Homo sapiens: one gene and its partners. The protein of the gene in region 1 purifies or fractionates together with the protein of each later gene. This does not show direct contact. Each region holds a gene or a part of one and is shown in the gene's direction. Other genes may lie near its edges.

Region 1 (3,390 bases):
ACCACCGCCCCTGGCCAAAAAAAAAAAAAAATCTTTTTTTTTTTTCTTTTTTTTTGAGAGGGAGTCTCACTGTCGCCCAGGCTGGAGTGCAGTGGCGCGATCTCGGCTCACTGCAGGCTCCGCCGCCCAGGGTTCATGCCATTCTCCTGCCTCAGCCTCCCGAGTAGCTGGGACTACAGGCACCCGCCACCTCGCCCGGCTAATTTTTTGTATTTTTAGTAGAGACGGGGTTTCACCGTGTTAGCCAGGATGGTCTAGATCTCTTGACCTCGTGATCTGCCCGCCTCCGCCTCCCAAAGTGCTGGGATTACAGGCATGAGCCACCACGCCCGGCCAAAAAAAAAAAACTTTTGTGTTTTGTTTGTTTGTTTGTTTTCTTTTTGAGACGGAGTCGCTCTGTCACCCACGCTGGAGTGCAGTGGCGCGATCTCGGCTCACTGCAAGCTCCGCCTCCCGGGTTCATACCATTCTCCTGCCTCAGCCTCCCGAGTAGCTGGGATTACAGGCGCCCGCCACCATGCCCAGCTAATTTTTTGTATTTTTAGTATAGATGGGGTTTCACCGTGTTAGCCAGGATGGTCTCGATCTCCTGACCTCGTGATCCGCCCATCTCAGCCTCCCAAAGTGCTGGGATTACAGGCATGAGCCACCGTGCCCGGCCAAAAAAAAAATCTTTTAAAAGTAATTTTTTTCACAGGTTCTGAGGATTGGGGAAAGAACAGAAAAAGAAGAAAATTTAAAATAAAAATAATTTTTTAAAGCATCAAGGTAGTCATCAAAGTCAAGACAAATCAGAACTCTGTTGGCTTCTTTTACACTTATTTTACTATTTTATATTGCATTTATTTTGTTTTTGTTTGTTTGTTTGTTTTGAGATAGGGTCTTGCTCTGTCACCCAGCTAGAGTTCAGTGGCGTTACCACGGCTCACTGCAACCTCGACTTCGCCAGCTGAAGTGATCCTCCCACTTCAGCCTCCCAAGTAGCTGGGACTATAGGCACATGCCACCGTGCCTGGCTAATTTTTGTATTTTTTTGTAGAGATGGGGTTTTGCCATATTGCCCAGGCTGGTCTTGAATTCCTGAGCTCAAGCAATCCACCTGCCTCATCCTCCCAAAGTGCTGGGAATACAGGCGTGAGCCACCGCACCCAGCCAATTTTGAATTACCTGAGTAGGGACAATGTAACTTTTCTGGTACTCAGGTTCTCTAAGGATCTTAATCTGGCCCTGCTGGGACCCCTTTCTCCTATAGTGTGATTCTTGGAGCAAATACCCGGCCAGACTTGGATCTCCGAGACCCCATCTGTGATGACTTCTTCCAGTTGTGGCAAGACATGGCTGAGAGCAACGCCAATATCTATGAGCAGGTGGGAACTTGGGAGGGGTGGGGGAGAGTGGCCTGGGGAAATTTGTGGATTATCCTGCTCAGGGTAGGATGGAGAGAAGCGCCACCATACAGTCATTATTGGAAGGGGGATGAGGGCCTGGGGACATTTGCTATCAAGAGATTTAGTGGCCCAGGCCGGGTGCAGTGGCTCATGCCTGTAATCCCAGCACTTTGGGAGGCCAAGGCCCGGTGGATCACCTGAGGTCAGGAGTTTGAGATCAGCCTCCCAACATGGCAAAACCCCATCTCTACTAAAAATACAAAAAAATTAGCTAGGTGTGGCTGGGAGGCTGAGGCAGGAGAATCTCTTGAACTCAGGAGACAGAGATTTCAGTGAGCCGAGATCACGCCATTGCACTCCAGCCACCTGGGCAACAAGAGCAAAACTCTGTCTCAAAAAAAAAAAGTACAAAAGTTAGCCGGGCATGGTGGTGGGCACCTGTAATCCCAGCTACTCAGGAGGCAGAGGCAGGAGAATCACTTGAACCCGAGAGGTGGAGATTGTAGTGAGCCGAGATCGCACCATTGCACTCCAGCCTGGGCAAAAAGAGTGAAACTCCGTCTCAAAAAAAAAAAGAGAGAGAGAGTTAGTGGCCCAGGGTCAACGGGGGGTATGGAGAGATGGTATGGGGGAAGGGGTCTAGCCTAGTTGGACTTAGATTGTTGGGAGAGTCTCCCCAAGCCTTACTGGCGTCCATGCCCCCGCCCACAGATCTTCCGCTGCCTGCCATCCAATGCCACGCGTTCCCTGCGGACTCTCCGGGAGTACGTGGCCGTGGAGCCCTTGGCCACGGTCAGTCCCCCCTTGGCTCGGTCTGAGCTCACCCAGGTCCAGGGCCACCTGGTCCACTTCCCCCTCAAGTTCCTAGAGGATGAGTCTTTGCTGCCCCCGCTGGGTAGCAAGGAGGGCATGATCCCCCTAGAAGTGTGGACATAGTTGAGGCCCCCGTCAGGGAGAGGTCACCAGCTGCTGTGCCCCACCACGTCTGGCTCCCTGCCCCTTAACCCCAAGGACTGAGGGCAGTGCCCTTTGAGATCTGGGGAGGCAGGCATTCCTGAAGGGAACTAGAGGTGTTACAGAGGACCCTTACGTGAGAAATAGCTGAAAAGGGCACTCCCAACCCTGGGCTGGGGAGGAGGAGAGAGTCCCAGAGCTCATCCCCCCTGCTGCCCAGTGCAAACCACTTCTCCATGCTGCAAAGGAGAAGCACAGCTCCTGCCAGGGTGAGCAGGGTCAAGCCTCTTATTCCAGGAGAAGGGGGCTCTGCCCCAGGCCCTACTACCCATTGTTCCCTTCCTCTTCCTGCCCTTGAACCCCCTCCCTGTCCCAGGGCCCTCCCAGCCCATTGCTGCCAAGGTGGAGGGAAGGATAAAGCCACTTCTGGCTTCAGCCCCCACCAGGGGAAGGAAGGAGGGCACATTAACTCCCTCCACCAGCCTGCTGACAGACACTAACTTTGTATCCGTTCAATAAGCATTTCATAAATAAAGGTGTAGAAAAGGTTCATGCGTCTTCCTTGGAGGAACTAACTGCTCGTTCCAGCCTCCCGTTCCTGCCCACACGGGGCACCAGTCCCCTTCACCTTATCTCCACCCTCCTCCACTCTCCTCTCTCCACCTCTGTTCTACCTATCTGTGGCTTCGGGAGCTCGGTCACCTGGCTCCTGAGAGGAGAAGGTGTTGACACAGTGCCGCCTGGGTAGAAGGACGGGCAGGGCCCAACCAGGGCACCTGGAGAACTGTGGAGCTGCTATCACAACCGCAGGTGAGGGAGATGCTCTGAGAAGGACCTAGAGAGGCTGCCTCTTGTTCAAGCAACAGCCCTGGTAGAGGCTTAATGAAGGCCCTGTGGGAGTGGTTGAGGGTATAGGCTTAAGGTCAGGAAGACCTGGACCCAAATCCTGGACTCCTCAATGAGAAGCTAGGTGAACTTGTCAAGTCATTCACTTCTCTGGGCCTCAGTGGTCCCCGCTGGGAAATGGGAATAATACTTACATGACTAG
Region 2 (3,500 bases), on another chromosome or scaffold:
GGATGTATTGTACAAAGGCTGTTAGGACATAGCATCATTCAGTAGGACAAGGGCTATGTGGGTTTATAGAGCTATGTAGGAACTTTGGACAAATAACTGTGTTGGATAAGTTAGTATGTTACTTTCCAAAAAGCATAACAAGGAAAGAGAGGGTTATGTTTATTTATTTATTTATTTTTGGAGACAGGGTCTCGCTCTGTTGCCCAGGCTGGAGTGCAGTGGTGAGATCTTGGCTCACTGTGACCTCCGCCTCCTGGGTTCAAGGGATTCTCATGCCTCTGCCTCCTGAGTAGCTGGGATCACGGAAGTGCCCCACCACACCCTGCTAATCTTTGTATTTTTAGTAGAGAAGGGGTTTCGCCATGTTGGCCAGGCTGGTCTCAAACTCCTTAGCCTCATGTGATCTGCCTACCTTGGCCTCCCAAAGTGCTGGGATTACAGATGTGAGCCACTGTGCCTGGCCAGTTGTATTCAAATTTTCTCCTTATTTGAAGGAAGTTTTAAGAGGTGATTGATAAAAGGAAGAGAAGAGGGCTTAGCAACGTGGGGGAAAGAGGACATTTTTCCCTTAAGAACGTGGAAGAAGGCTGGGCACGGTGGCTCACGCCTATAATCCCAACACTTTGGGTGGACAAGGTGGGTGGATCACCTGAGGTCAGGAGTTCGAGACCAGCCTGGCAACAATTAGCTGAGCGTGCTGGCATGTGCCTGAGCATCAGATTAGGAGATTATGCCCATGCAGCTCAATCTTTCTTTTTAAATGATAAAACGGTGGCTAGGTACGGTGGCTCATGCCTGTAAATCCCAGCTCTTTGGGAGGCTGAGGTGGGTGGATTGCTTGAGTCCAGGAATTTGAGACCAGCCTGGGCAACATGGGGAAACCCCGTCTCTCCAGAAAAAAATAGCTGAGTGTGGTGGTTCGTGCCTATAGTCCCAGCTACTTGGGAGGCTGACCGGGAGGATCACTTGAGCCCAGGAGGCGGAGGTTGCAGTGAGCCCAGATCACGCCATTGCAGTCCAGCCTGGGCAGCAGAGCAAGACTCCGTCTCAAAAAAAAAAAAAAAGGGAAAGAAGTTATCTTACGATTAAAATGGGTAGAATTTTTCATAAAACAATAGTTGTCTTAAAATTAGTGAAACATAGTAATTTCATGAGAAATTTTGTATTCCAAGTGTGCTTTTTAGCTAGTGTTTGTAAATAAATATAATGAGATACCTGTCTGTATAGGTAGGGCTTAAATGCTTATGGATGGAAGGTTATTTGATTGTATCTCAAGTGATGTAGAGGTGGAACTAGCAGAGACTTTCCAAAGGATAAATGTGGGTAGATTGAGCAGCAAGCACTTGGTAAGTCTTAGTGTTTGAACGTGCTAGAAATTTGGACTGTCACATCACTCCAATCAGCCTTGTGGTCTGTCTTCTTCATCTTCAATTTATATATATATATTTTTTTGAGAGTTTTTGAGACAAGGCCTGTCTCTGTTGTTCAGGCTAGAGTGTAGTGGTGTGATCTCAGCTCCCTGTAACCTCTGCCTCCTGGACTCAAGCCATCCTCCCACCTAGGCCTCCCTAGTAGCTGGGACTACAGGTGTGAGCCACTACCCCTGGCTTATTTTTGTATGTTTTATAGAGATGGGCTTTCACCATCTTGGCCAGGCTGGTCTGGAACTCCTGAGCTCAAGTGATCTACCTGCCTTGGCCTCCCAAAGTGGTGGAATTACAGGTGTGAGCCACCATGCCTGGCCTCTAGAATTTTGTATTCTAACATTTTCCCCTTAATTCCTAGAAAAATGTGGATGAAGAATTTTGCCATGTTGATTGTGTGAACGAATGGTTGCACCTCTTAAGGAAAAAGCCTCATTTGATACTGCTAAAAGGACCAGTGGGAGGGGGCATGTGGCAGCCGGTCTTGGCTAGCTCAGGAGCCTAGCAGACTTTCTGCTAAATAGACTTCCTTCCATCGCCTCTCTCTGCCTTTCTTTCTCAGCATAGAAGTGGCAAAACAAAGACAAAACCATTGTATGTATTTCATGGTGATAACTAACTTGATAAATGGGTCAAGCTTGTCAAATGTCAGAACTTTATTTGATACAGCATAGTTGTAAAAGTGAAGTGGCTCTTTTTTAAGAGTTCTTATTATGGGGGAAAAAAGCCCAACAAAGCAAATAACAAACAAAAAAGCAGTGACTGAAGATATTTTGAGACTGCCTGAGCTGGACTGCCTGAGCTGGACTCTAAAAACTAAAGTTTTTCTTTTCCTTTTTGCTAATCTTATTTTGGATGATTTGTTTGGTATAAAATCTGTCATTGAGATTTACAACCCCCCCCCCCACCCTACTTATTTTTTTTGAGACAGAGTTTCATTTTGTCACCCAGACTGGAGTTCAGTGGCGCCATCTTGGCTCACTGCAACCTCTGCCTCCCAGGTTCAAGCCCATTCTCATTCTCCTGCCTTAGCCTCCCAAGTAGCTGGGATTACCGGCGTGTGCCAGCATGCCTGGCTAATTTTTATATTTTCAGTAGAGATGGGGTTTTACCATGTTGGCCGCCAGGCTGGTCTGAACTCCTGACCTCAGGTGATCTGCCCTCCTTGGCCTCCCAAAGTGCTGGGATTACAGGCGTGAGCCACCGGGCCTGGCCAAGATTTACTATCACTTTCTGAATCATTTTGTACAATTAACTGTAACAGGTGTTTTTGTGATATTCTGTTTAACATTCTTTTTTTGAGATGGAGTTTCGCTCTTGTTGCCCAGGCTGGAGTGCAATGGCGTGATCTCGGCTCACCGCAACCTCTGCCTCCCAGGTTCAAGCGATTCTCTTGCCTCAGCCTCCTGAGTAGCTGGGATTACAGGCATGCACCACCAAGTCCGGCTAATTTTGTATTTTTTTTTTTTTTTTTTTTTAGTAGCGATGGAGTTTCTCTATGTTGGTCAGGCTGGTCTGGAACTCCCCACCTCAGGTGATCCACCCATCTCGGCCTCCCAAAGTGCTGGGATTACAGGTGTGAGCCACCGCGCCAGGCCTCTGTTTAACATTCTTACCCTGAATTACATTTTGTTACTTTCACTTTTATTTACACTAATTTCTTGATAGTTGTACATTCTTGATCATTGTCCTAGAAGATTCTTACAGCATAAAACTATGGACTTTTGAGAAAGAATGCTAAAATTGCCAGCCCTAATTGCTCAATATTTTCAGTTTCTTTGATCACTGTGAAGTGGACAGGGTATACTGTTTTCTTCACCAACTTCCTTATCACAGACATCTCCCCCTTTCATGATATCCCTGGTCATTTGCCATTTTGTTTTATTTTTATTAATTTTTTTCCTTGGCATGTGAAGTAAGAGCTACATTTGCCCTTTTGGTTTACTATTTTTAGGCCCCTTCTCCTGTGGCTATTTGTATACAGTTTCCCAAGGTAATACGACATGTAGGCAACTCATAGAAATGAGCTATGCTTATTAGAATCCACTTAGTATTCACCTCCAGAGCTAGCAGAGC
Region 3 (3,500 bases), on another chromosome or scaffold:
CTACATTTCTTGTAGTGTTACGATCCTGTAATGGTTTTTCATGAAAGCAGGAGAAAAATATTAGGGTTATTACTTTTATAATAGCCTGCCTTTTTCCTAGAACATATTTTAATTTAAAAAAATGAAGAGTACAGATATTCTGTATTTTATATAAAGCTGAAAGGGAATGTAAGCAGGAAATGTAATGGCAATGTCTTAGGTAAGTACTATTATAATTATGAATGGTTTTCTTTACTTAAACCTGGATAACTATTTGACATTGCTTCCCTAGAGATCTTTGTAAATATTTTATCAATAACATTATAGTTGGCTAATTTGGATATATGTAGAGGTACTCATCTCTATTTCCATTTAAACAGTAGAAAATCTGATTCATAGGTTATATACAAAGTAAGTGGATTTTTAAGTTTACATTAAAATAGAAATAGCTAACTTTAACTAGACTATCAAAGTGAAATATTGTAGTGATACTAAGATTTTATAGTACCAACATAAATAGTATCAAACTCCACTTACATTTACAGTAAGTGGTCACTTAACATAAGGTTTTTGGAAACTGTGACTGTAAGTGAAACAATGTTCTGTATAACAACTAATTTTACCGCAGGCTAATTGATATAAACAACAGTTAAATTGCTAAGGCATATAGTACATCATGTTTACTTGAAGTTGCAGTTTCCAAGGACCTCTTGATGACGTTAAGTGAGGACTTACTGTACTGTGAGTTGTTATTGTGGAAATCTATTTTCCTTGAATGTAGCTCCTCTAAGGTACTTAAAATTATAGCTTTAGTCTTGTTTACAAAATTTACTTCAGGTGCTGAAGTAAATCCCATTCAACATTAAGAGAATCTTCATGAATGTAGCAGTATAATTGGACCTGGTGGCCCTCTCTGAATATTATTGAGAAAGGTTGTGGTCATTTCTTTCTATTTTTTAATAGAGACAGGGTCTTGCTCTGTTGCCCAGGCTGGAGTACACTGGGGCAATCATAGCTCAGTGCAGCCTCAAAATCCTAGGCTCTACCAATCCTCCCATCTCAGCCTCCCAAGTTGCTGGTACTACTGACATGTACCACATGTCTGGCTAATTTTTTTAAAACTTTTTTGTAGAGACAGGGTCTTGCTATGTTGTCCAGGCTGGTCTTGAACTCCCAGCCTCAAGCAATCCTCCCACCTTAGCCTCCCAAATCCTGTGCTGGGATTACAGAGGTGAGCCACCATGCCTGGCAAGGTTGTGGTCATTGATAGGACGTTTTGCAAAGCATCCTTGAAGGAAAGAGGATATATAAATGCAAATTAATGACTGAAAATATAACCTGTGTTTTGACATGTTAGAATACATAATTACAGAAAAATTATTAAAACTAGTAATTTTGACTGGAAGTATACTAGGAACAATCAGAAATCTTTCAGGCAGTAGTAAATTTTCTTCTGATACTTGATTTGCAGTTATTTTGCTAGTTATAACATAGTTTGTCAATGGTAGCCATTTCTGATTGGTCATCTTATATGAAAACAACTTGAATGTTTATCAGCAAGAGAGTGTTTGAATAAATTCTGGTCCATCTATACCAAGATATATTATAGGGCTATTTTTTAAAAATGAATTTGAACACTATCTTTTGATTTCTAGAGATGTTTATGATTCATTGATAAATGCAAAAAGCAAAGTTTCAAAGTAATAATCCAACATTTATAAAAACAACTAATCACAACTAATCATAAACAAAAGAGGTTTATAAAAACCTCTATGTGTGTAGAGAAACTCTTAGTCAAGTTTTCATAAAGAAGGAACTTCTACCTGTAACGGAAGCAGATTGGGAAGAATCATTCCTATTTCTGTCCACCCTTCACTTACAAGAGGAGAGGGCAATAAGTATTTACTACTGAAAATACACATGCATTATTTTAGTAATTTTTTAAAATTAAAGAAAAATGTGAAAGAAAATGTATTTTTTCTGATCATAATTGCTCTCCCTAATTTAACCTTGCTTTTAATTTTTTAGGTAGTGTACATTCTTTTTCAAATGGAAGAGCTGGTTATAGCCAACAACATCAGCATCGACATAGTGGACATGAAAGAGAAGAGGAAAGAGGAGATGTACGTTTATGACTAGAAATCACAAAATGGCAAATTTCAGCTCAGGAAAAGTAATTAGAGTTGTCTGAAAAGAGGGCAAGTAGTTGTAGGAAATAATGAGTTTTCTCTTACTAGAGGTGTTTGGTAGAGACTAGAAAATCCTTAGGGACATTGTAGGAATAGGAAGAGAGGTCAGCCAGGGGTGGTTGGATAGTATGACCCCTTTAGATTTGTTATTCTATGATTCTAATGAAGGTACACCTGCACTATGCATGTTGTGAAGGTAACTTGTTATTGTTGGCCCTGAAGAATTTAGAGTACTGAAAAACTTGAATTGGAGGTAACTTTCCTTGTTCTAATGCAGTTATACCTAATTGCCTATAGCAATTTAATTACATGAAGTGGAAAGGTAAATGGAAAGAGCACTAGACTAGAAATTAAAAGGCCTGGCCCCCAGCTTTGCCACTCATCAGCTCCCATCTTCTACCCTCAAATCCAAGGTAAAAAATGGTTTTACAGCCTGCAGCATATTGATAGCGTCTCTGTGTGTGGGGGGGAGGGAGTCGGGAAAGAGAAAGAGAAAGAAATGAAGACTTCCTCATCTATAAAATGAAATCAAATTTTATCAGTGTTTTTCAAATCAGAATCTCCTGGTGATATGCCTGGATAATTATATTTAAGAATCATCCTATTGGCATGGTTACGCAGATTTGAAAGCACTGAACTAGATGATCTCAAATGCGCTTTCTGCCTCAAAATGTATGACAACTGTTGTATTATTAACAACTACAGTTATATTACAATTTGTTATTCTTTGATCATTTTTTATAGGGAGGTTTTTCTGTGTTTATCCAGCTGATGCCCATAATTGTATTGATCCTCGTGTCATTATTAAGCCAGTTGATGGTCTCTAATCCTCCTTATTCCTTATATCCCAGATCGTAAGTAGCCAAGTGAAGTTTTACAAAAAATGAATTGTTGCTATTTCTGACCTAGCTTCCTTTAAAGAGCTTGTGCTCTTTTAAACTTTTAAGTGCCAAATCTATTACTGCAAGTGTACCAGATTTTAAATTTCTATCTAATTTTTTAAAATAGTTACTTTAAGTAATAAATTTGTCTTATGTTGTTAATTTACATTTCTATTCTTCCACTGTGGATAAGGACAGAAATGCTATATTTGAACTTGATAACAATTTAATGTGGTAGGTAATGTGTTGACATTAAAGGCAAAAAATACTCTAAAGGACAAAACTAAAGACAGAGCAATGATTGATGTTACATAGATTTATATCATTAAGGGGAAAATGACTTTACTCTTCATTTTGCAAAATATCGATTAAATAAAAGCAAATATTACTTTTTTATGATGTATTTTTTTCACCATATACTTTATGTGTAAGAGGTCAGGACATAAAGGAA
Region 4 (3,152 bases), on another chromosome or scaffold:
TTTATCTTTTCATACATGTACAAGACAGACCTTATTTGGTAACAGCAACAATCCTCACACATCTCTCTTCCTTCCTTCCAGGATTTTAATGCCTTTTGTAAAGACCTGCCTAATGGTTCTGCCTTCAGTGCAGACAATATGGAAGAGTGTGACAGATGTTATCATTGCTCCATTGTGTACGAGCGTAGGACGATGCTTCTCTTCTGTCAGCCTGCAACTGAGCCAGGATTGAATACTTGGACCCCAGGTCTGGAGATTGGGATACTGTAATACTTCTTTGTTATTATAACATAAAAGCACCACTGTTCTGTTCATTTCCTAGCTGTTCTAATTAAGAAAACTATTAAGATGAGCAACCACATTTAGAAATGTTTATTGACAGGTCTTTTCAAATAATGCTTTTCTAATTAATAGCCAAAGATTTCATATCTAACTTTGTAACCAGAATTATACAGTAAGTTGACACCACTTAGATTTAAAGGCAGACAGTTTTGCTTTAGTACAATAGTATACATTTTATAATGATGAACTTATAATGATTAAGGGACATTTCTATAAAAATACTACAATAGTTTTATGCACAACTTCCCATTAAAAATGAGATTTCTTATTTGTTTGTCTGTTTTTACTCTGGGAGTAATACTTTTTAAATTACCTTTACATATATAGTCACTGGCATACTGAGAATATACAATGATCCTGGAAATTGCAGTAACAAAAGCACACAACGATTATAGTAACTATAAGATACAATAAAACAAATAAATATGAAAGTAGATTCATGAAAATGTATTCCTTTAAAATATTGTTTTCCTACAGGCCTATTTAACAAGATGTTTCATTTTACTGTATATTTTGTAGTTAATATAAATGTTGCTCTAATCAGATTGCTTAAAAGCATTTTTATTATATTTATGTTGTTGAACTAATATATGAAATAAGTAAATGTAGCTCCCACAAGGTAAACTTCATTGGTAAGATTGCACTGTTCTGATTATGTAAGCATTTGTACATCTTCTTTGGAAATAAAAGATAAAAGAGCGATACACAAAGCTTTCTTTTCTAACTTTTCCAAGCAAAATCTAAAATGTTTTATGACATTTTTCTGGCTGTGATCTTAAAATAATTCATATCTAAATAGTATTTTGTCTAGGAGATGCTTTCTCTCTAGTAGTTAGAAATTAAATCTGTGTCAGCATTCCTATTAATGTCTCACTTTACTTTCAAGTAATATTGGTGCTATTTAACATTTTACAGTAAATGTTACTTCTGATACTTTAGTACAATTTCAACTACAGTGATTCATGTAGAGAGACAGGGGAGTTGTCAACTTGGGCTACTGAACTACATGCATAAACTAAAAACTAACAGCTACAAACTTTTAAGATTTCTCTAATATTGGTATGTAACACAGGATAAAGTTATTCTTGTCATTTTGAACTGTAGAGTCCTATTTCAGTGTGATGAATCACTGTTGCTTTGAAAAATCTCATTATTTCTGGGCCGGGCATGGTGGCTCACCCCTGTAATCCCAGCACTTTGGGAGGCCAAGGCGGGTGGATCATGAGGTCAGGAGATCAAGACCATCCTGGCCAACATGGTGATACCCCGTCTCTACTAAAAATACAAAAAAATTAGTTGGGCATGGTGGCATGCACCTGTAGTCCCAGCTACCTGGGAGGCTGAGGCAGGAGAATTGCTTGAACCTGGGAGGCAGAGGTTGCAGTGAGCCAAAATCATGCCACTGCACTCCCGCCTGGCAACAGAGCAAGAGTCTGTCTCAAAAAAAAAAAGAAAAAAAGAAAAAAAGAAAAAAGAAAAATCTCATTATTTCAAAATGATAGACATATACCAAAAACAAGTCTATAATGTGAGTAGTTACTAAAATTTACACATCTTAAAAGTGTGTAAATGCTTAAATTTCAGAATTACCATCAGAACCTCAATTGACATTCCTTTGAATACGCTAATAAGTGACAAATAAGATTAATAAGATTTTTCAAAATCGCCAGGACTGGTGAATATAAATGATGATTGAACTGGAATAATATTGGGGACCAAATCAAATGAATGATTAAATTATGAAGCTCATATCCTTTTGAAGGTAGTTGCAAAGAGACATTTCAAAACTGCCCTAGGCCATTGCAGCATCCTTAGATGGGACGCATAATCATTACCTTAAAGCATCACCACTCATTTTGACCATATAGATTTTATTATGTTAGTTTAAAAGGTCAATCAGCCTCATGACTTTATAGTTATGTCTTGTATTTAAAAACATTTTTTATACATTTGGTTATGTTGATAAACCAAAAACATTTGATTAATAAAATATCTATTTGAATAAATTATGAGCTATCCTTTCAAACAGCTATTGGCAAGTTTTAAACCCAAAATATATACACATAGTTCTGTAATAAAACTGTTTGACTTCTCAAGTAACATGACTTCCTTATTTCTGAACAGTACTGGTTACTTTCAAAATGAATTTTTATTGAGATTTTCCATTAACTATTTTTTTCAAAGACTCAAATTTTGTACCAAGTAAATCCAGGCTTTATGTACAAACATGTTGTTTGTTTTATTTGGGGCTGGGGGAGGTATATGATGAGCAGACTTCTCGGAATTCATAATAAATTTTCTAAAAGCCTACAAATGTGTGTATTGCTTTTATTACAGTAAATATGGAATCTTTCATACTTATTTTTACCTTATTAAAAACTCAAAATAGATAATAAATACATTAGTTATTGCTTATTTGGGAATGTATTTTTAAAAATTATTACATTAGTAGTTGAATTCTTTGTTTTCCAGCACTTAAAGAGGTTCCATATAAATGTTCTATCATTTGATGAATAGTATAAAATAGCCTGTTCACACACCCACCATACTTCTTCTTTTTTATAGTCTCTTCTTGCTAATCCTAAATAAACTGAAATTTGTTTCCAATTTTTAAAATAAGAAAGTAACAATATAAATCACAGGCACTTGGATACCTGTACCATGAAGCTAGACTAGAGTCCAAAATTATTTTTGGAAAGTGAGTATGTGAAGAGTAGTTGCTGATGTTGGCATACATTTTCTTGTCAGTTCATCTGGAAAAACGACCAACCTATAATAATAAAGCAGGTGCTTGGCTTTTTAAAATGTTC
Region 5 (3,500 bases), about 37 Mb from region 1:
CACCCAGGCTGGAGTGCAATGGCATGATCATAGCTCACTACAACCTTTGCCTCCCAGGTTCAAACAATTATCCTGCCTCAGCCTCCCGAATAACTGGGATTACAGGCACATGGTACCACGCCTGGCTAATTTTTTGTATTTTTAGTAGGGATGGGGTTTCACCATGTTGGACAGGCTAGTCCCGAACTCCTGACCTCGGGTGATCCATTCTGTCAAGCTTGATTCCTCCCATCTTGGGCCAAGGGCCCCTCCTTTCTTTCGTGCTACCGAAATAGAAGCAAACCTGTGTTTAGAGTTCCCTTTTCTGTCTCATTTACCTGCATCTCTCATTGATGCAGGCCTCCCAAAGTGCTGCGATTACAGGCATGAGTCACCGTGCCTGGCCGAGTAGATTTTTTTTCTAATCTCCAGAAGAAAGCACCGTAAAAGTCCCTGGCATGGTTAACAAGGCCTCTAACTCCCAGGCAGCTGGGCTGAGACCTGGTGAGGAAAAAACCAGAGTCAGATTTGTCCACTGATGCCAGATGTCTTCCTGTAGAACACAAACAGCTCCTAAAAAATGCGCAGCTGGAACTGAAGAAGAGTAAGAGGAAAGATTACTACAAGATTCTAGGAGTGGACAAGAATGCCTCTGAGGACGAGATCAAGAAAGCTTATCGGAAACGGGCCTTGATGCACCATCCAGGTAGAGTAGGTGCGGGGAGTGGGCTCAGTGGGAAGAACCCGCAGGGCAGGCCAACTGCCACACTCAGTCCAGAGGGGACCCCTTGGAGAGGTCCTTCAGCTGAGAATAAGGTGTTGCAGACTTGTGGACCCTCCAAATTTTGGGAAGTGCCAAATTCCAAAATTAGACAGAAAGTAGTTTTTCTCTTAAACTTTGTTTTCTTGAAACTTTGATTTCCACTGAGTTGTTCTTTTACTCCCCACTTTAGATCGGCATAGTGGAGCCAGTGCTGAGGTTCAGAAGGAGGAGGAGAAGAAGTTCAAGGAAGTTGGAGAGGCCTTTACTATCCTCTCTGATCCCAAGAAAAAGACTCGCTATGACAGTGGACAGGACCTAGATGAGGAGGGCATGAATATGGGTGGTGAGTTGGCTGGGGCAGCCTGGGATGAATTTGACAGCTGTAGAATGTTAGAATTTTTTCCAAAGATGCTCCAGAGGGAGAGTCTATTTGGGCCAAATCTGATCCCTGGTCCAAACAGTAATAGACATGGAGTCAAACAAATGCAGTCAAATGTGGCAGGTTCACAGTGTGCAGTGAGCTCTGAGGAGGCGAGCACTAGCAAGGGAAGGCTTGGAAGTGCAGAAAAGCATGGCCCCATGGGTCATGCCTGTAATCCCAGCACTTTGGGAGGCCAAGGCAAGCAGATCACTTGAGGTCAGGAGTTTGAGACCAGCCTGGCCAACATGGTGAAACCCTGTCTCTACTAAAAATACAAAAATTAGGCTGGGCGCGGTGGCTCATGCCTGTAATCTCACCACTTTGTGAGGTCAAAGCAGGTTGATCACCAGGTCAGGAGTTTGAGACCAGCCTGGCCAACATGGTGAAACCTCGTCTCTACTAAAATACAGAAATTAGCCAGGTGTGGTGGTGGGCGCCTGTAATCCCAGCTACTCGGGAGGCCGAGGCATGAGAATCGCTTGCACCCAGGAGGCGGAGGTTGCAGTGAGCCGAGATTGTCCCACTGTACTCCATCCTGGGCGACAGAGCAAGACTTTGTCTCAATTAAAAAAAATAATAAGAAGAAAGAAAAAAGAAAAATTAGCCAGGTGTGGTGGTGCACACCTGTAATCCCAGCTACTTGAACCCGGGAGGTGGAGGTTGCAGTGAGCCAAGATGGCGCTACTGCACTCCAGCCTGGGCAACAGAGTGAGACTCCATCCCTCCCCACTAAAAAAGCAAAGCATGGCCTCTTTGGGGATCTGCAGGGGGCTTGGTCTAGGGAAGATAAAGGGATAGGGTGCTAGAGGCAGGTGGTGGTGGAAGGCCGGCAAGTAGCTGGATCAGAGCTCACAGGCCATAAGGGCTGTATGTGGTAAGGAATATGAGCATTTTCCTATTATCTGGAAGTTCTTTTTTACCCACTGCAAAGTGTATGCTGACATTTATGTATGTCATACATTCCTATAAACACTCACAGATTTTAATTTCCCAAAAAGATTTAGCATGATATAAAGCACACCTATTGTCAATATTGTTGCTCACTGTGGGCTGTCAGAGATAAGAGGCCCTGACCTGTGAGCTGGGCGCGGTGGCTTACGCCTGTAATCCCAGCACTTTGGGAAGCCAAGGCGGGCAGATCACCTGAGCTCAGGAGTTCAAGACCACCCTGGGCAACATACAAAATACCAAAAAAATTGTACTCTCTACTAAAATACAAAAAAATTAGCTGAGCATGGTGGTGCATGCCTGTGGTCCAAGCTACTCAGGAGACTGAGGCACCAAAAACTCTTGAGCCCAGGAGGCAGAGGTTGCAGTGAGCTGAGATTGCGCCACTGTACTCCAGCTTGGGTTACAGAGTGCGACTCCATCTCAAAAATTAATTAATTAATTCAGTCAGTCTTCACTCTAAGTTGTCTGCCAAAAAATTTGCTGGGCATGGTGGCTCACGCCTGTAATCCCATCACTTTGGGAGAACAAGGTGGGCGGACCACAAGGTCAAGAGATTGAGACCATCCTGCCCAACATGGTGAAACCCCGTCTCTATGAAAAATACAAAAATTAGCTAGCCATGGTGGCGCACGCCTGTAGTCCCAGCTACTTGGGAGGCTGAGGCAGGAGAATCGCTTGAACTCGGGAGGCGGAGGTTGCAATGAGCTGAGATCGCACCACTGCACTCCAGCCTGGCGACAGAGCAAGACTTGTCTCAAAAAAAAAAAAAAAAAGAGGACCTGACCTGTGAATGGTGAACAGACCTACCATCTCTTCCACTAAGAAAATCTATTGGGATTTTGTTTTTTGTTTTGTTTTGTTTTTTGAGACGGAGTCTTGCTGTGTCACCCAGGCTGGAGTGCAGTGGCACCATCTCGACTCACTGCAACCTCCGCCTCCAGGGTTCAAGTGATTCTTCTGCCTCAGCCTCCCGAGTAGCTGGGACTACAGGTGTGCGCCACCACGCCCAGCTAATTTTTGTATTTTAAGTAGAGACGGGGTTTTACCATATTGGCCAGGCTGATCTGGAACTCCTGACTTCGTGATCCACCCACCTCGGCCTCCCAAAGGGCTGGAATTACAGGCGTGAGCCACCGCGCCCGGCCTTTTTTTTTTTTTTTTTTTTTTTAAGACTGAGCCCAGTCTGGGTGCAGTAGTGCCATCTTGGCTCACTGCAACCTCTGCCTCCAGGGTTCAAGCAATTCTCCTGCCTCAGCCTCCTGAGCAGCTGGGATTACAGGCATCCACCCCCATGCCTAGCTAATTTTTATATTTTTAGTAGAGACAGGGTTTCACCATGTTGGCCGGGCTGGTCTTGAACTCCTGACCGCAAGTGATCTACTGGCC
Region 6 (3,500 bases), on another chromosome or scaffold:
CTTAGGATTAAACAAGTTTTACTGTGGGTCTGAAGAAACTCCCCAGACCTCCACAAACAAGTTTATGGAGGGTCTGAAGGAACTCCCCAAACCTCTGTGATTTAGCAGGAGACAAGATAAGGGTAATTGCCCCAGCACCTGGACCCATTTAAATTAAGTAAATTTACTGAGACCCCAGAGGAAGGTCTTCAGCACTCAGACTTTAGATATAGATTAAAAGAAGTTAATCACTTATGTCTTTAGATGAATGCACGCTTACACATGGACATATGGCTTAGAAGGTATATAAGCTCTGGAAAACTTTGTAATTTTGAGTTGGTCTGGTGATAATTTCCAGGCCTTCTCCCTGTAGCCAGTTGCAGAAGTAAATAACGTCTTCCTCCTCGGTTCATCTGCATCTCGTTATTGGGCCACAAAACTAGCAGGCCAACCCTCAGTTTGGTCCAGGAACACCTAGGTGGGACAGGCACAATGGCTCATGCCCATAATCCCAGCACTCTGGGAGGCTGAAGCAGGAGGATTGCTTGAGGCCAGAAGTTAGAGACCAGCCTGGGCAACATAGGGAGACTCTGTCTCTACAAAAAATTTTTAAAAATTCAAAAAAATACAAAGAAGTACCTACATGGTTACCACTATCCAAATTGAGTATTATTTATACATTAGATTAATAACTTTTAAATATTGTATTTCAGCTATGACCACCAAAGATTATCCATCATTGTGGGGCTTTGGAACAACAAAAACATTCAAAATTCCCATTGAACATCTAGATTTCAAATACATTGAAAAATGTTCAGATGTTAAACATCTGGAAAAAATTCTTTGCGTGCTCAGGTAAGCATTTTAAAATCATTACATGTTTTAGTATGACAGTTTTAATTATCTTGTTGTTACCTTCTAAAGGTAAAAGCTACATTAGAAATATCTGTTTTTGCCCATGCATGGTAGGTCCCAAAATAGTGGTTTTGATCCTATGGTTAGTTTGGAGAGTTCCACCTAGGTCTACTGCCAGCATGAGACGCAGGCTAATTAATATCCAGGAGGGTATTTTTCTTGCCTTCTCTACATTTTCTAGGAGAAGGTAAAGTAGCTGTGAAAGCAGCCATTAGGATGGGCTGTGATGGCTCACGCCTGCAACCCCAGCACTTTGGGAGGCTGAAGCAGGTGGATCATTTGAGCTCAGGAGTTCAAGACCAGCCTGAGCAACAGGGTGAAATCCTATCTCTACAAAAAATACGAAAATTACCTTGGCCTGTAGTCCCAGCTACTCAGAAGGCTGAGGTGGGAGGATTGCTTGGGCCTTGGAGGCTATAGTGATCCCTGGTTGTGCCACTGCACTCCAGCCTGGGTGACAGAGTCTCAAAAAATAAAAAAATAAAAAATAATAATAAAAAAAATAAAAAAAGCTATTAGGAGGTAAGCTTATCTCACCAGCCTAGGCTGGTGGCACTTTCCCACTTCATATCACCTGACAACAAGGGAGGGTGACCCACCGCACACTGATCACATGGAGGGTGGTGGGGAGGCCTGACGGTAATACCAGAAGGCAGGGAATTAGGACCTTCTCAGGATAGAGCTCCATTCTAGTGACTGTCCAACTGAATATACATCAAATGTGGTTGTTAAAAATGCACATTTGAGGGCCCTATTCCCAGCGATTCTGCTTCAAAAAATCTGGGGTAGGGCCAGGGAACATGTGTTTTTAACAATGGAGCTGGCTGATTGATATGTAGGTGTTCAAGGAACCCACTTGAAGAAACACTGTCCTGAGTACCACCAACCTGTGACACCTCTTTTGGATTTCTTTTCTTTCTTTCTTTCTTTTTTTTTTTTTTTAAGACTGGATCTCACTATGTTGTCCAGACTGATGTCAAACTCCTGGACTTGAGCAATCCTCCTGCTTTGGCCTCCCAAAGTGCTGGGGCCTCTTTGGGCCTCTTGAGCTATTTTCATTTGGATACCAGAGTTCTATTGCAGAAGACACTTGTGGAGCATGAACTGCTTTCCAGGACATCTAGAATTCCTATTACCCTGTGGTGGTTCTTTATTTCCTCTATCCCTATTCCTTATCACTGGGTTCTTCCCTTTTTCTCTTTCATCACCTTTAGCTTCCTTTCTTCCCTGTTGGTCCACAGCCAGATGCTGATGTGATAACATCATCATTTTTAAAATGGAAAGTGAAAAATCAATAATATCAATTGTTTTCCCTTTTTTAGCAGAATATTATCATGTATACTTGGTCAAGGACGGATAAATAAAAATGAAAAGTTTATTGGATGAAACAGTTGGAAAGCTACAGTTATAATAATGTTGGTTCCAAGAAATTTTATGAATAGCCTAATTCAGTGATAATATATTGAACTTGGAATTGTTTTTTAAAATTTAATTTGGAAATGAAATTTATTTATATTTTTCTAGAAATGTAAGAGTGAACAGACCTAAGAAAGAATGGGAAAGGACTGATTTTCCTTAAAATAAAAGGAACAGATGTCTCCATTTAACTCTCTAAGGAAGGAATTCTGTTCCTTGAGTGGTTGGATTTCAGGGTGTTTTGTTTAAGCTGTTTATCTGCCATTTTCTTCCTACCTCTTTGAAATAAAAAAATTTATGAACAGAAACTCCTTGTTGAAAAGGAAGTCCAAATTCTCTTTCTGCTAGTCTCTAATATTGAATTTATGAGCTTAATATCATGTACAAAATGAACATATGAACATATATATGTTGAAGAGAAAATATTGTTTTTGTTAGATTAAAATTTTGTTTCTTTGGTTGATATTAAACTGAAATTTATATGATACATGAGATTTGAAACTTAGAAAAAGTAAATGATAAAATTTTTTTTTATTTTTATTTTTTGAGATGCAGTCTCACTCTGTCACCCAGGCTGGAGTGCAGTGGTGCGATCTCGGTTCACTGCAACCTCTGCCTCCCAGGTTCAAGTGATTCTCCTGCCTCAGCCTCCTGCATAGCTGGGATTACAGGTGCCTGCCACCACGCCCGGCTAATTTTTGTACTTTTAGTAGAGAGTCCATTTCGCCATGTTGGCCAGGCTGTTCTCGAACACCTGACCTCAAGTGATCCACCTGCCTTGGCCTCCCAAAGTGCTGGGAATACAGGCCTGAGCCACAGTGCCCAACCTGATAAAAATTTAATATAGTTAACTATTCATTGATATGTTTATTGACTTCATCATAAGCTATATATTTAATTAAAAATCAAACTATGAGTCTGCAAACCAGATGCTATCAAGCAAATTACCATCCATGATCCATAATTCTTTTTATATTTTTAACTCAGACAAATATGTAAGATTCAGTAAGTTTTAATGTTTCAAATGTTTTCCAAAAAATTATCAGAAGCTCCCAGTTATAAAATAGTTGGAGAATCCATTCACCCCAAATGAACTACCTGTTTGTGTGTGAGGTAGCAATCTTCTGTGACACTATTACCCTTAATTCATATGAATTCCCTCTTCACATGAAGAGTACAGACAACAAACA
Region 7 (3,500 bases), on another chromosome or scaffold:
ATCAATGCCTACTACCACCACAAAAAAGAACTCAGTGAAAATTCTTCTCAAAGGAATTATGTGTTTCCTGATGGAACTACTCTCCTGCCTCCATGTAGTAGTTTTACTGAAATAACCAAATGGTGATTGAAACCTGTCTAGATTCAACCACCAATTTACAGAACAGAAGACCAAGCCAAATGTTAGGAGAAACCACAAAGATAAAGTCAGCAAAATCCAGTCTGCATAAAGTTGTACAGGACAAATGACTAGGTTTCTCAAACTTTTTCGAGTAGTGATTAAAAGGAAATTAAGGATAGGATGCAGTGGCTCACACCTGTAATCCCAGCACTTTGGGAGGCTGAGGTGGGCAGATCACTTGAGGTCAGGAGTTCGAGACCAGCCTGACCAAAATGGTGAAACCCCATCTGTACTAAATACAAAAATTAGATGTGGTGGTGGGCGCCTGTAATCTCAGTTACTCGGGAGGCTGAGGTTGCAGTAAGCCGAGATCATGCCACTGCACTCCAACCCGGGCGACAGAGTGAGACCTGTCTCAAAAAATAAAAATAAGGCCAGGTGCAGTGGCTCACACCTGTAATTCTGACACTTTGGGAGGCTGAGGTGGGCGGATCACCTGAGGTTGGGAGTTCGAGACCAGCCTGACCAACATGGAGAAACCCCGTCTCTACTAAAAATAAAAAATTAATCAGGAGTGGTGGCCCATGCCTGTAATCCCAGCTAATTGGGAGGCTGAGGTGGGACAATCGCTTGAACTTGGGAGATGGAGGTTGCGGTGAACCAAGATCGCGCCACTGCACTCCAGCCTGGGCAACAAGAGTGAAACTCCGTCTCAAAAAAGAAATAAATAAAAATAAAAAAAGGAAATTAAGGAAACTTAACTTTTGGTACCTAACTCATAGCCTCCAGAAACCCATTCATGTACTGTAGATTAGTCAACCATCTTGTAGGGAATTGTTTATAGAGGGCACAATCACATTTTAAGAGTAAATAAATAACATCCTGCTAAATCTTTTGAGGAAATGAGCAATTCCATATAGATTTGTGAGAATTATTTAGAAAAAAGATTTTAGGTTGAATAATTGGCTTATTTAATAAAGATTTACCCTTTTATTCTATTCTTAAAACTTGTTTTTGGCCTTAGGGTATTCTTGTGACTTACGGAAAATTTGATAGTAATTATCAAATTATTGTTCTAAACTCTGAAGCTCATTTTTGGTATAACCTAGATAACAATTGCATATTTGTATGGACAGGTATTTACTGATTTCTTTTACAAATAAAACATTGTGCTTGCTTGTAAGGAATAATCAAGGAAATTAACATGTGGTCATTTCCTTGAAAAGAATGGATAATTCTATAGCAGCCATGGTCACAAATAATACAAGGTGAAGAATTAGTCAACTAAGGAATGGGAATAGGATAACAGGGATAGACTATGGACTAGCCAAGCAATATTTTTGGTAATAGATACTCTTTCCAGTTTGGGGAGCAGAAGAAAAGAAAAAAAAGAGGCCCGGAATATCTTTTTCAAAAGAAACTTTGTTGCCCTTTCTTTATTCCTAATAAATTTGCTTATTAATGTATTCACTTTGGGGCCTAATTTGGCTTTTACTGACAAATAGCTGCCAACAAAGAGCTGTATGTATTATCTTGTACACCTATATTGAAAAAAAAAATTCTGCATTATGAAATATTTACTCCAGAAGTTTTAATTTTTGTTTGCTGTTTCTTTTTAAGAATAATTTTTTTTTTTTTTAGAGATGGGTCTTGCTATGTTGCTTGCTGGAGTGCAGTGGCTAGTCACAGATGCAGTCATAGCATACTGCAGCTTTGAACTGGGCTCACGCCATCCTCCTGCCTCACTCTCCCAAGTAGCTGGGACTACAGACATGTGCCACTGTAGCCCAGTTCAATTCTTTCTTTTTTTTTTTTTTTTGAGGTGGAGTCTTATGCTCTGGCCCAGGCTGGAGTGCAGTGGGGTGATCTCGGCTCACTGCAACCTCCGCCTCCTGGGTTCAAGCGATTCTCCTGTCTCAGCCTCCCAAGTAGCTGGGATTACAGGCACACACCACCACGCCTGGCTAATTTTTGTATTTTTAGTAGAGATGGGGTTTCACTATATTGGCCAGGCTGGCGTCGAACTCCTAACATCAAATGATCCTCCCACCTCAGCCTCCCAAAGTGCTGGGATTACAGGCATGAGCCACTGTGCCTCGCCAAGAATAAATACTCTTGATTTTTATTTCCTTCTAGCTATCTTTTGTAGCTTTTGTTCTATTTTTTTTAAATCATCTTTGGTTTAAACTGAAATATACTGAGATGCAGATTAGAAAAAGCTTTTTTTCTTGGTGCAGGGCAGAAGAAAGGCTTGTAAACTTCACCAAATGCTGCTTATGCTTGTGGGATCGTTTAATGTTCATCATTTGGTCAGTCTCATCCCCATAGCAGTCAGAATATTTCAAGTCACTTTATACCATGAAGTCCATGAATGGGAGGCCTTATTAAATAAGATGATTATGTGAAAATCTAATGGCATATTGATGCTCTGAAATATGTTATGTAAATCTTGGCTTTTAATTTTTTACATTTTTATTACAGATTCTGAAGAATATTTCTGTGTAAAAAGAATTTTCTCAGGGGGAGATCAAAGCTTTTCACATTACTCTAGTCCCCAGGTAATAATATAGTCATGTAAATAATTAAATAGCTCCAATAATTTTGACAAATTTTAAAAACCCATTATTAATGTTCTTTATATGTTACAAAGTAATTGCCTTAGTTTTTTTCCCCTTAAGTCTACAGAATAAGTTTTTTCTGATCTATTTGATAGGTTTTTGTTTCAGGTGTTCAGGAGAGATTTAATTCTGTTTAAAGAACAAATATATGGTGGGAATTTCTTGGTTTTTGAGTTATATATAATATCTCTTCCCTCTGACTAATCTTATTTGAAAATTTAGAACTGTGGGCCACCAGATGACTTCAGATGTCCCAATCCGACAAAGCAGATCTGGACAGTGAATGAAGCTCTAATTCAGAAATGGCTGAGCTATCCTTCTGGAAGGTTTCCTGTGGAGATAGCCAAGTAAGAAAAGCATTTTGGGCCAGGCACAGTGGCTCATGCCTGTAATCCCAGCACCAGGCAGATTGCCTGAGCCCAGGAATTGGAGACCAGCCTGGGCAACATGGCAAAACCCTGTCTCTACAAAAAAATACAATTAGCTGGGCGTGGTGGTGCACACCTGTGGTCTCAGCTACTTGGGAGGCTGAGGTGGGAGGATCAGCTGAGCCCAGGAGGTCGAGGCTGCAGTGAGCTGAGATTAACACCATTGCACTGTAGCCTGGGCAACAAAGTGAGAACTTGTCTCCAAAAAAAAATATCCATGGATATTTTTAAAGATCTTAATTAAATATGTATAAGTTGTAGTTCTTTCATGTGCATAGAGATATGTTAAATGATAACATAAAATATTTAATGTAGCCATTTTAGGATTGGCCTT

What was found.
Region 2: the proteins of PLD2 (region 1) and UGGT1 purify together in Homo sapiens (affinity purification with mass spectrometry, with the first as the bait; one large-scale study listed by BioGRID). This does not show direct contact.
Region 3: the proteins of PLD2 (region 1) and DNAJB14 purify together in Homo sapiens (affinity purification with mass spectrometry, with the first as the bait; one large-scale study listed by BioGRID). This does not show direct contact.
Region 4: the proteins of PLD2 (region 1) and CAV2 fractionate together in Homo sapiens (co-fractionation; one study listed by BioGRID). This does not show direct contact.
Region 5: the proteins of PLD2 (region 1) and DNAJC7 purify together in Homo sapiens (affinity purification with mass spectrometry; 4 studies listed by BioGRID and IntAct, with this or other methods). This does not show direct contact.
Region 6: the proteins of PLD2 (region 1) and SPAG1 purify together in Homo sapiens (affinity purification with mass spectrometry, with the first as the bait; one large-scale study listed by BioGRID). This does not show direct contact.
Region 7: the proteins of PLD2 (region 1) and HERC4 purify together in Homo sapiens (affinity purification with mass spectrometry; 2 studies listed by BioGRID and IntAct, with this or other methods). This does not show direct contact.

The regions. Positions count from the first base shown.
Region 1 is NC_000017.11:4,820,541-4,823,930, forward strand, and holds the end of PLD2 (phospholipase D2), read left to right. Parts: intron 1-1,252; coding exon 1,253-1,367; intron 1,368-2,099; coding exon 2,100-2,324; 3' UTR 2,325-2,890; downstream 2,891-3,390.
Region 2 is NC_000002.12:128,097,700-128,101,199, forward strand, and holds part of UGGT1 (UDP-glucose:glycoprotein glucosyltransferase 1 precursor), read left to right. Parts: intron 1-3,500. UniProt on the Homo sapiens protein: Recognizes glycoproteins with minor folding defects. Reglucosylates single N-glycans near the misfolded part of the protein, thus providing quality control for protein folding in the endoplasmic reticulum.
Region 3 is NC_000004.12:99,905,119-99,908,618, reverse strand, and holds part of DNAJB14 (dnaJ homolog subfamily B member 14), read left to right. Parts: intron 1-2,007; coding exon 2,008-2,102; intron 2,103-2,465; exon of another isoform or gene 2,466-2,581; intron 2,582-2,912; coding exon 2,913-3,022; intron 3,023-3,500. UniProt on the Homo sapiens protein: Acts as a co-chaperone with HSPA8/Hsc70; required to promote protein folding and trafficking, prevent aggregation of client proteins, and promote unfolded proteins to endoplasmic reticulum-associated degradation (ERAD) pathway.
Region 4 is NC_000007.14:116,505,890-116,509,041, forward strand, and holds the end of CAV2 (caveolin-2), read left to right. Parts: intron 1-81; coding exon 82-232; coding exon of another isoform or gene 233-270; 3' UTR 271-2,652; downstream 2,653-3,152. UniProt on the Homo sapiens protein: May act as a scaffolding protein within caveolar membranes. Interacts directly with G-protein alpha subunits and can functionally regulate their activity.
Region 5 is NC_000017.11:41,979,440-41,982,939, reverse strand, and holds part of DNAJC7 (dnaJ homolog subfamily C member 7), read left to right. Parts: intron 1-538; coding exon 539-685; intron 686-932; coding exon 933-1,085; intron 1,086-3,500. UniProt on the Homo sapiens protein: Acts as a co-chaperone regulating the molecular chaperones HSP70 and HSP90 in folding of steroid receptors, such as the glucocorticoid receptor and the progesterone receptor.
Region 6 is NC_000008.11:100,161,587-100,165,086, forward strand, and holds part of SPAG1 (sperm-associated antigen 1), read left to right. Parts: intron 1-692; 5' UTR 693-694; coding exon 695-834; intron 835-3,500. UniProt on the Homo sapiens protein: May play a role in the cytoplasmic assembly of the ciliary dynein arms. May play a role in fertilization. Binds GTP and has GTPase activity.
Region 7 is NC_000010.11:67,991,784-67,995,283, reverse strand, and holds part of HERC4 (probable E3 ubiquitin-protein ligase HERC4), read left to right. Parts: intron 1-2,601; coding exon 2,602-2,678; intron 2,679-2,960; coding exon 2,961-3,085; intron 3,086-3,500. UniProt on the Homo sapiens protein: Probable E3 ubiquitin-protein ligase involved in either protein trafficking or in the distribution of cellular structures. Required for spermatozoon maturation and fertility, and for the removal of the cytoplasmic droplet of the spermatozoon.